3 separate regions of the Homo sapiens genome follow, and all the other regions are linked to region 1. Evidence: fine-mapped expression QTL. A gene starts in region 1. Each other region holds a variant in brackets. All regions are shown on one strand. Distances are between the middles of the regions.

Region 1 (2,766 bases):
ACCTACCCGAAGTGTTAACAGCGCACAGCAGGCCTTAGATGGGTGCAATAACTGCAAACTCTCAACGGGCTGGTGCCTAAGAGGCTACGGGCTGGCAGCTAAATAGAGCCCGGCGCAGTGAGTCGCGTTGTCCGAAAGTACACAGAGTGGAGCCAGCCGACTGTGCTGTCTTTGCAAACCGTGACCGAGCAAAGTCCGCGGTAAACAAGCCTCGCAGCAGCTGCCTCCGGATGAGCGCCCCCTGCTCATTCCTCCACCCAGCATTTCCCACGCGCCCAGCGCTCCGCTCTGCAGCCCCTGCCGTCCTCTCTCCCAGCCCCATTCTCAGATCGCCCCATCTTTTGGCCCAGCCCAGGTCCCAGCCCCCGCGGCTGGCGCACCACACTCACCATCTCTTGCCTGAGGAGGTGAAGCTTGGTTTCTAGCCTCTCCAGGGCGCTAGAGTGGCTACCTCGTGGGGAGCCAGAGGTTGGGGAGGACGAAGAGGAGGACGACAAGGAGGGAGGGAAGCTGCAGTAGCTGCTGCTGCTACTGCAGCCGCCGCCGCCGCCGCCACCACCACCGCTCCCCCCGCAGGGGTCCCTGTCCCTTTCCCTGGGAACCGGCTCCTCCCCACGGAGAGAGCGCACTAGACTCTCGGGTACTTTGCGCCCCAGCTTCAGCTCGATGTCTCTGAGGTCTGGCAGCGGGCTGTCTTCCATGACTTTTCCGGAACGGCGATAATAGTAATAAAACGCAGCAGATGAAAGGCAGCCACGGCTTCGAAGGCTGCTGCGAAATCAGCAGACCTCTCCGGGGGCCAGGGTCTCTATCCTCCGCCGCTCCGGTGTACCGTCCTTTCCATAACCGCCTATGCGGTATCAGCCCTGAAATCCGCACAGGACGCGGGGGGTCGCAGCTGCAGTTCCCAGTCCGCTGCGACTCCTCCGACACTAAGATGATCAAGATCTCCTCATTCTCTCTCTTTTTGGCCACCTCACTGCAAAGTTGAGTTCACTGATATTGCAGACAGAGGGGGAATAAAGAGGGGGAAGTAGTGAAAGAAAAGAGAGGGAAATTAAATCTGTTTTAGCTTTACCAAGGGAAAATTTTCACATTATAAAACCGTCCGTTCACATCCCTGCGCCGCTCACTGACTGCCCATCTGGTACTACGCGACACAAAATAATGATGCAGCCAGAAACGATGTCCTGGGTCGTTTCATTTTCCAGCCATATGCCTCCAAGCTTTCGGGATATCCTGGGTTGTCAGAAATAATCTCTGGTCAGTGAAAGAGGAGTTCGGTCGTGTGCATGGACCCATAAAAAAGAGCTAGTTAGCTTAGCAGGAGTTTAACGGCTTCCTTGATGCAGCAAAAATGTCCTTCTTCCCATTTAGGCTGTTTGATCCAAGTCATTGTGTTCCTCTGAGCCTCGGAAACTTTAAACTCCGCTGGCAGGTGGACCAAACCAGGACCAACCCTTCTACCGTATATCACAGACAAGAAGAGCAACCGGAATTTTCCCAACCCTGTCGCTAGTAGCAGAGTTTCAAAGCCCTGCTTTAGTTAGGAATACCAGTTGATTTTTCAGTTTTCCTGACTAGCTACAACCTTTAAAACAGGTTTTAAAATGAGAGATAGAGGAATGACTTTATATTTGGTGTCTTCGTTTCCCATCTCTCTACCTTCCTCAAAGGAAAAACAAACAGAAAACCTCTCTTTAGAAGACTTTCCTAATAATTTTATTCTAATAAAAAGAGTGAAACAATTTCATCAAAAGTTCAATGGAAATGTACAATCAAAATTAATTATCCTACCAACTGTTACAGTATGCAAACAAAAGTGAAAAATTAAATAGCCAGAATAACTTACATGACTGCTGAGATAGCAGTGAAATTTTAAGAACAAGCAATTGCTGAGATACTTACTTTTATTTTAATTATGGAAGAAAAAATATTGGGAATAACTATTTAAAATGTTGTCTTCTTTGATAATTTATCTATAAATTAATTTATAGATTTTTTCAACTATACAAATTGTACAATTAATTGTATAGTTGAACAATTGTACAATTTATTAATTTGTACAATTGTACAATTCATTAATCTGAAATACTTCTACCAAGTAAGTTATTATGAGCTACATGGATTACAGATCTGAATCAGCATTGAGTTTGTGTCAAAAATGTTTAAGTAGAGGATACTAATTTCAATCCAGTAAACTACAATTTTTGATTTCCATTGAAATATTTCAAAGTATGTGCCCCTCTATTTCTGTGACATATAAGTATTTGTGTTCCTGGTCACTCCGAGGCTCCATTTCCAGAGACATCATTCAGGTTTTACACTTGTAGGAACATAGGTATATACATCTCAGAGTTTGTTTTTATCATATCTGACTCTAGGAAACCTTATACGTAGAGGAAACATACGCATTCTAAATGAAATATTTCATGTCAGGGAAAAAATGCTGAACTTTCTATCAACATGCCAGAAATTTGCATGCTATTTCTCCCTTTTAAAAAGAAATGAAGAAAATAGTTATAAGTTAGATGACCCATTTCAAAGTTAGAACTACCACTTACAGAATCAAGGGAAAACAAGACCAAATCCCAGCTAACTGATAAAACTACATGCTTGGTCCTAAATTTGGAAAAACACAAGCTCGTTGCATAAGAATTGCACTGTGGCATGTAATTATGAAAGGCTTGTGTTTCAGTCAAGAACAGTTTATTATTACAAAACCCTTACAAAGTTCAGCATAAGGCTGGCTAAGTGCAGTTTATA
Region 2 (2,766 bases), 100 kb after region 1:
GTTATTTAATTTCCTCACAACTCTATGAAGGTAGTCTTTTTTACTATTGTTATTTTCCATATGAATAAACTCATAGAGATTTTAAATGAATTAGTTATGTAAAATATATATCTATATAAATGCAGGCAAATACATAAACTTGAAGTCTTATTCAGGTCCTTAATGAGATCTGCAGTGCCAATATCTTCTAACTACAAATTGTAGTATGTTGCACAGGGGTCAGATCTCAGAGAACATCTAATCCAGCTGAACCTCTTTACGTATAAAGAAACTGAGGTTCAAAAGACATAAAAGGAATTAATCATGTTGACCAAGTTAGAGAAGTTCCAATGTAAGAAAATTAAAACTATTCTACTTTTTAAGAATTGGAGAAAATGCCAAAGAAATATATACGAACGAAAATAACTGAATGAATTCCACAAATGCAGTTCTCATGGATGCTTGATAACTTAGCATTGTTCATTGAGCCAAGTGACATCAGTCATGTACGTACGCATATGTACGAGCAACCCATGACTTTCGATACAAAGAAGGCAGTATTTTCCTTTCCTCAGAAGTTTGAAAGTCACCAGTTTAAACTTTGAAAATGTATTCTCATAAATTTAAGAGCACCATGTCTCCTCTTTTCTAATTAAGTTTTTTATGCCATAGCCAGGCACGCAATCAGAGCCTATCCCATGAATAGTTACTTAAGACTTAAAGTCACTAAGTTTTTTATCCTCCACATGTGACTTGATCTCATGGACATAGAGAATAGAATGATAAATACCAGAGACTGGGAAGGGTGGGTGGGAGAGACTAGGGATGATCATTAGTTATGGATACAAACATACAGTTAATTAAAAGAAATACGTTTTAATGTTTGACAGCAGACTAGGGTACTATACTTAGCAGCAATATTATGTGTATTTTAAAGTAACTGCAACAGATGACTTGAAATGATGCCAACATTTAAAAATGATAAACACTCAAGGTGATCGATACCCTAGATACCCTGGCTTGATCATTGTATATTCTATGCATGTACCAAACACTCATGTACACCTCATAAATGTGCAAAAGATTACATATCAATAAAACAGGAAAAAAGTGAAAAAAAGGCATCAAGAAGAAAGTAGCACCTTGAAATAAGTGCAAACAGTTGGAGAAACAGATTATTAATTTTAAAGACAATCTGCCAACTGCTTAAATGACATCTCACCTTCACATTGTTCATTAATTATATATTCACAGCCTTAACTTCTGGAGATTAATTAATGCTGAGGAACAACTATAAGATATACAACCCATATTAGTTGTTTAAAACGAATATGGTAAAACCATTATTTTTAAAACTGAAAAATAAATTCACTGTATATAACTCTAGACTGGAAGTGTTACAATGTTGAGGACAGTGACAAAAAAACATAAAATAATAAAAACAAATATTATGTTGGCAGGGAAAGGCAGGTGTAAAATCTACACTGTGTTAATTATGTCTTATTTGATGTCTGTTTGGGTATACATTACAGATAAACCTTCTATTCAATGTAAATAAAAAATTTTACGTAAATATATGACTGCAGTAAGCGTAGTTTTCTGAGACTGAGCTCTGTGCCATACAAAATAATGTTTTGCGTCTCAATTTGATGACAAATCTCAGTACTCTGATA[G/A]CCTTTAAGATTCTTAGGAATGTGTAAGAAAAATTAGGTTAATCCTACTCCCAATTCTTTTCTATCTACCATGGAACTAGGCCACATAGAATTTCACTATTATAACAAATAGTTTCAGACATTTTCCATCTATAAATGGCAAGATGCACTTAAGTTCACACAGTAATTAGGATCAATGAAGACCATTAGCATTTTAAATTGCAGTAGATCACAGGAAAATGCTAAATTCTTCCAAATGTATTTCATAAAACTCTGAAAACCCTAATCCCAAAAGCACATACAGATAGCACTTAAAAACAAAACTACAGAACCATCTCATGTAGGAATATAGGTACAAAAACATCCAAAATAAAATAGCAGCAAATAAATTCCAGCAGCATATTGAACTACATAAATTTTAATAAATAATTCATTTAGTATATGCAAATGGGAATTTAATTTTAGGAAAATGATTAATATATTCTATCAATAAGTAAAAGTAAGAGGTATTGTGGAGTTCTTAGTAAATGCTTAAAAAGACATTTAGGAAAATCTAATACCTGTTTTTGGTAAAAATATACTCGAGCTTAGAACAGAATTTTTCTTTAACTTCAGTAAAAACTGCATATTTAAGTCAACAGCTACCACTGTAGTTAAAAGTGAAACATTTCAGTAATTTTTATTAAAATTAAGATGAGGCCAGCATGGATAACCGCTACTATGAACATTGTTTTAGAAGTTCTACCTAATGCAATGAGACAGGAAATAGAAAAAATATATATATATCTACAGTAACATTAGAGATAAGTTTTTGATGCTGCTCCTGCGTTGATGGTAACAATATAGAAGAAAATCAAGTTAGATATTTATTTTGTTTATTATATTGATAAGAAAAGTAGATTAAAATAGTTCATGTAAAATGTAAATATTAAAAAAGAGGTGAATATTTGACATAAATAGGCAAACACTTTTCCAATACAAAGCCTTTTTATTAAAGGGAAATTATTTATAAAAATTACAGACAAAAGCACACAAATTGCACTTACAAATCCATGAGAGATACTATCAATTGACTAATAGGAAAAATTTTTGCAAAGACAGGTTGAATAAATAGAGTTTACCAATGAATTTAAGA
Region 3 (2,766 bases), 440 kb after region 1:
GAGTTCTAGTTTGATTGCACTGTGGTCTGAGAGATAGTTTGTTGTAATTTCTGTTCTTTTACATTTGCTGAGGAGAGCTTTACTTCCAAGTATGTGGTCAATTTTGGAATAGGTGTTGTGTGGTGCTGAAAAAAATGTATATTCTGTTGATTTGGGGTGGAGAGTTCTGTAGATGTCTATTAGGTCAGCTTGGTGCAGAGCTGAGTTCAATTCCTAGGTATCCTTGTTGACTTTCTGTCTTGTTGATCTGTCTAATGTTGACAGTGGGGTGTTAAAGTCTCCCATTATTAATGTGTGGGAGTCTAAGTCTCTTTGTAGGTCACTCAGGACTTGCTTTTTGAATCTGGGTGCTCCTGTATTGGGTGCATATATATATTTAGGATAGTTAGCTCTTCTTGTTGAATTGATCCCTTTACCATTATGTAATGGCCTTCTTTGTCTCTTTTGATCTTTATTGGTTTAAAGTCTGTTTTATCAGAGACTAGGATTGCAACCCCTGCCTTTTTTTGTTTTCCATTTGCTTGGTAGATCTTCCTCCATCCTTTTATTTTGAGCCTATGTGTGTCTCTGCACATGAGATGGGTTTCCTGAATACAGCACACTGATGGGTCTTGACTCTTTATCCAATTTGCCAGTCTGTGTCTTTTAATTGGAGCATTTAGTCCATTTACATTTAAAGTTAACATTGTTATGTGTGAATTTGATCCTGTCATTATGATGTTAGCTGGTTATTTTGCTCGTTAGTTGATGCAGTTTCTTCCTAGTCTCGATGGTCTTTACATTTTGGCATGATTTTGCAGCGGCTGGTACCCGTTGTTCCTTTCCATGTTTAGCGCTTCTTCAGGAGCTCTTTTAGGGCAGGCCTGGTGGTGACAAAATCTCTCAGCATTTGCTTGTCTGTAAAGGATTTTATTTCTCCTTCACTTATGAAGCTTAGTTTGGCTGGATATGAAATTCTGGGTTGAAAATTCTTGTCTTTAAGAATGTTGAATATTGGCCCCCACTCTCTTCTGGCTTGTAGGGTTTCTGCCAAGAGATCCACTGTTAGTCTGATGGTCTTCCCTTTGAGGGTAACCCGACCTTTCTCTCTGGCTGCCCTTAACATTTTTTCCTTCATTTCAACTTTGGTGAATCTGACAATTATGTGTCTTGGAGTTGCTCTTCTCGAGGAGTATCTTTGTGGTGTTCTCTGTATTTCCTCAATCTGAACGTTGGCCTGCCTTGCTAGATTGGGGAAGTTCTCCTGGATAATATCCTGCAGAGTGTTTTCCAACTTGGTTCCATTCTCCCCGTCACTTTTAGGTACACCAATCAGACGTGGATTTGGTCTTTTCACATAGTCCCATATTTCTTGGAGGCTTTGCTCATTACTTTTTATTCTTTTTTCTCTAAACTTCCCTTCTCGCTTCATTTCATTCATTTCATTTTCCATCGCTGATACCCTTTCTTCCAGTTGATTGCATCGGCTCCTGAGGCTTCTGCATTCTTCACGTAGTTCTCGAGCCTTGGTTTTCAGCTCCATCAGCTCCTTTAAGCACTTCTCTATATTGGTTATTCTAGTTATACATTCTTCTAAATTTTTTTCAAAGTTTTCAACTTCTTTGCCTTTGGTTTG[A/G]ATGTCCTCCCGTAGCTCAGAGTAATTTGATTGTCTGAAGACTTCTTCTCTCAGCTTGTCAAAGTTGTTCTCCATCCAGCTTTGTTCCGTTGCTGGTGAGGAACAGCGTTCCTTTGGAGGAGGAGAGGCGCTCTGCTTTTCAGAGTTTCCAGTTTTTCTGTTCTGTTTTTTCCCCATCTTTGTGGTTTTATCTACTTTTGGTCTTTGATGATGGTGATTTACAGATGGGTGTTTGGTGTGGATGTCCTTTCTGTTTGTTAGTTTTCCTTCTAACAGACAGGACCCTCAGCTGCAGGTCTGTTGGAGTACCCTGCCGTGTGAGGTGTCGGTGTGCTCCTGCTGGGGGGTGCCTCCCAGTTAGGCTGCTCGGGGGTCAGGGGCCAGGGACCCACTTGAGGAGGCAGTCTGCCCGTTCTCAGATCTCCAGCTGTGTGCTGGGAGAACCACTGCTCTCTTCAAAGCTGTCAGACAGGGACATTTAACTCTGCAGAGGTTACTGCTGTCTTTTTGTTTGTCTGTGCCCTGCCCCCAGAGGTGGAGCCTACAGAGGCAGGCAGGCCTCCTTGAGCTGTGGTGGGCTCCACCCAGTTGGAGCTTCCCGGCTGCTTTGTTTACCTAAGCAAGCCTGGGCAATGGCGGGCGCCCCTCCCCCAGCCTGGCTGCCGCCTTGCAGTTTGATCTCAGACTGCTGTGCTAGCAGTCAGCGAGACTCCGAGACTCCATGGGCATAGGACCCTCCGAGCCACGTGCGGGATAGAATCTCGTGGTGCGCCGTTTTTTAAGCCTGTCGGAAAAGCGCAGTGTTCCGGTGGGAGTGACCGGATTTTCCAGGTGCCGTCAGTCACGCCTTTCTTTGACTAGGAAAGGGAACTCCCTGACCCCTTGCGCTTCCCGAGTGAGGCAATGCGTCACCCTGCTTAGGCTCCCGCACGGTGCGCGCACCCACTGACCTGCGCCCACTGTCTGGCACTCCTTAGTGAGATGAACCCGGTACCTCAGATGGAAATGCAGAAATCACCCGTCTTCTGTGTCGCTCACGCTGGGAGCTGTAGACCGGAGCTGTTCCTATTCGGCCATCTTGGCTCCTCCCTGCACTCTTGCATATCTCATATTACATTTTTTGCTTCCCTTACACATAATAGAGATGTTAA

The links. PIP is the estimated chance that this variant, and not a neighbour inherited with it, causes the effect.
Region 2: its variant is the best candidate, but not a certain one, in a credible set for the expression of LURAP1L in tibial artery (GTEx, PIP 0.83).
Region 3: its variant is the best candidate, but not a certain one, in a credible set for the expression of LURAP1L in sun-exposed skin (GTEx, PIP 0.59).

What each region holds. Positions count from the first base shown.
Region 1 is chr9:12,773,651-12,776,416 of GRCh38, reverse strand. It overlaps LURAP1L (leucine rich adaptor protein 1 like), which reads right to left and starts at 1,397. Exons shown (of 2, transcript NM_203403.2): 1 at 390-1,397. The coding sequence starts at 701. The region is part of intron 2 of LURAP1L-AS1 (LURAP1L antisense RNA 1); the gene reads left to right.
Region 2 is chr9:12,673,011-12,675,776 of GRCh38, reverse strand. No RefSeq gene overlaps it. Among named protein-coding and RNA genes, the nearest start is that of TYRP1, 19 kb to the left of the region's middle. RefSeq lists cis regulatory regions at 493, 513 and enhancers at 421-565, 441-585. The variant G/A (reference allele first, on the strand shown) is at 1,653.
Region 3 is chr9:12,333,934-12,336,699 of GRCh38, reverse strand. No RefSeq gene overlaps it. Among named protein-coding and RNA genes, the nearest start is that of TYRP1, 360 kb to the left of the region's middle. RefSeq lists an enhancer at 1,740-2,373. The variant A/G (reference allele first, on the strand shown) is at 1,616.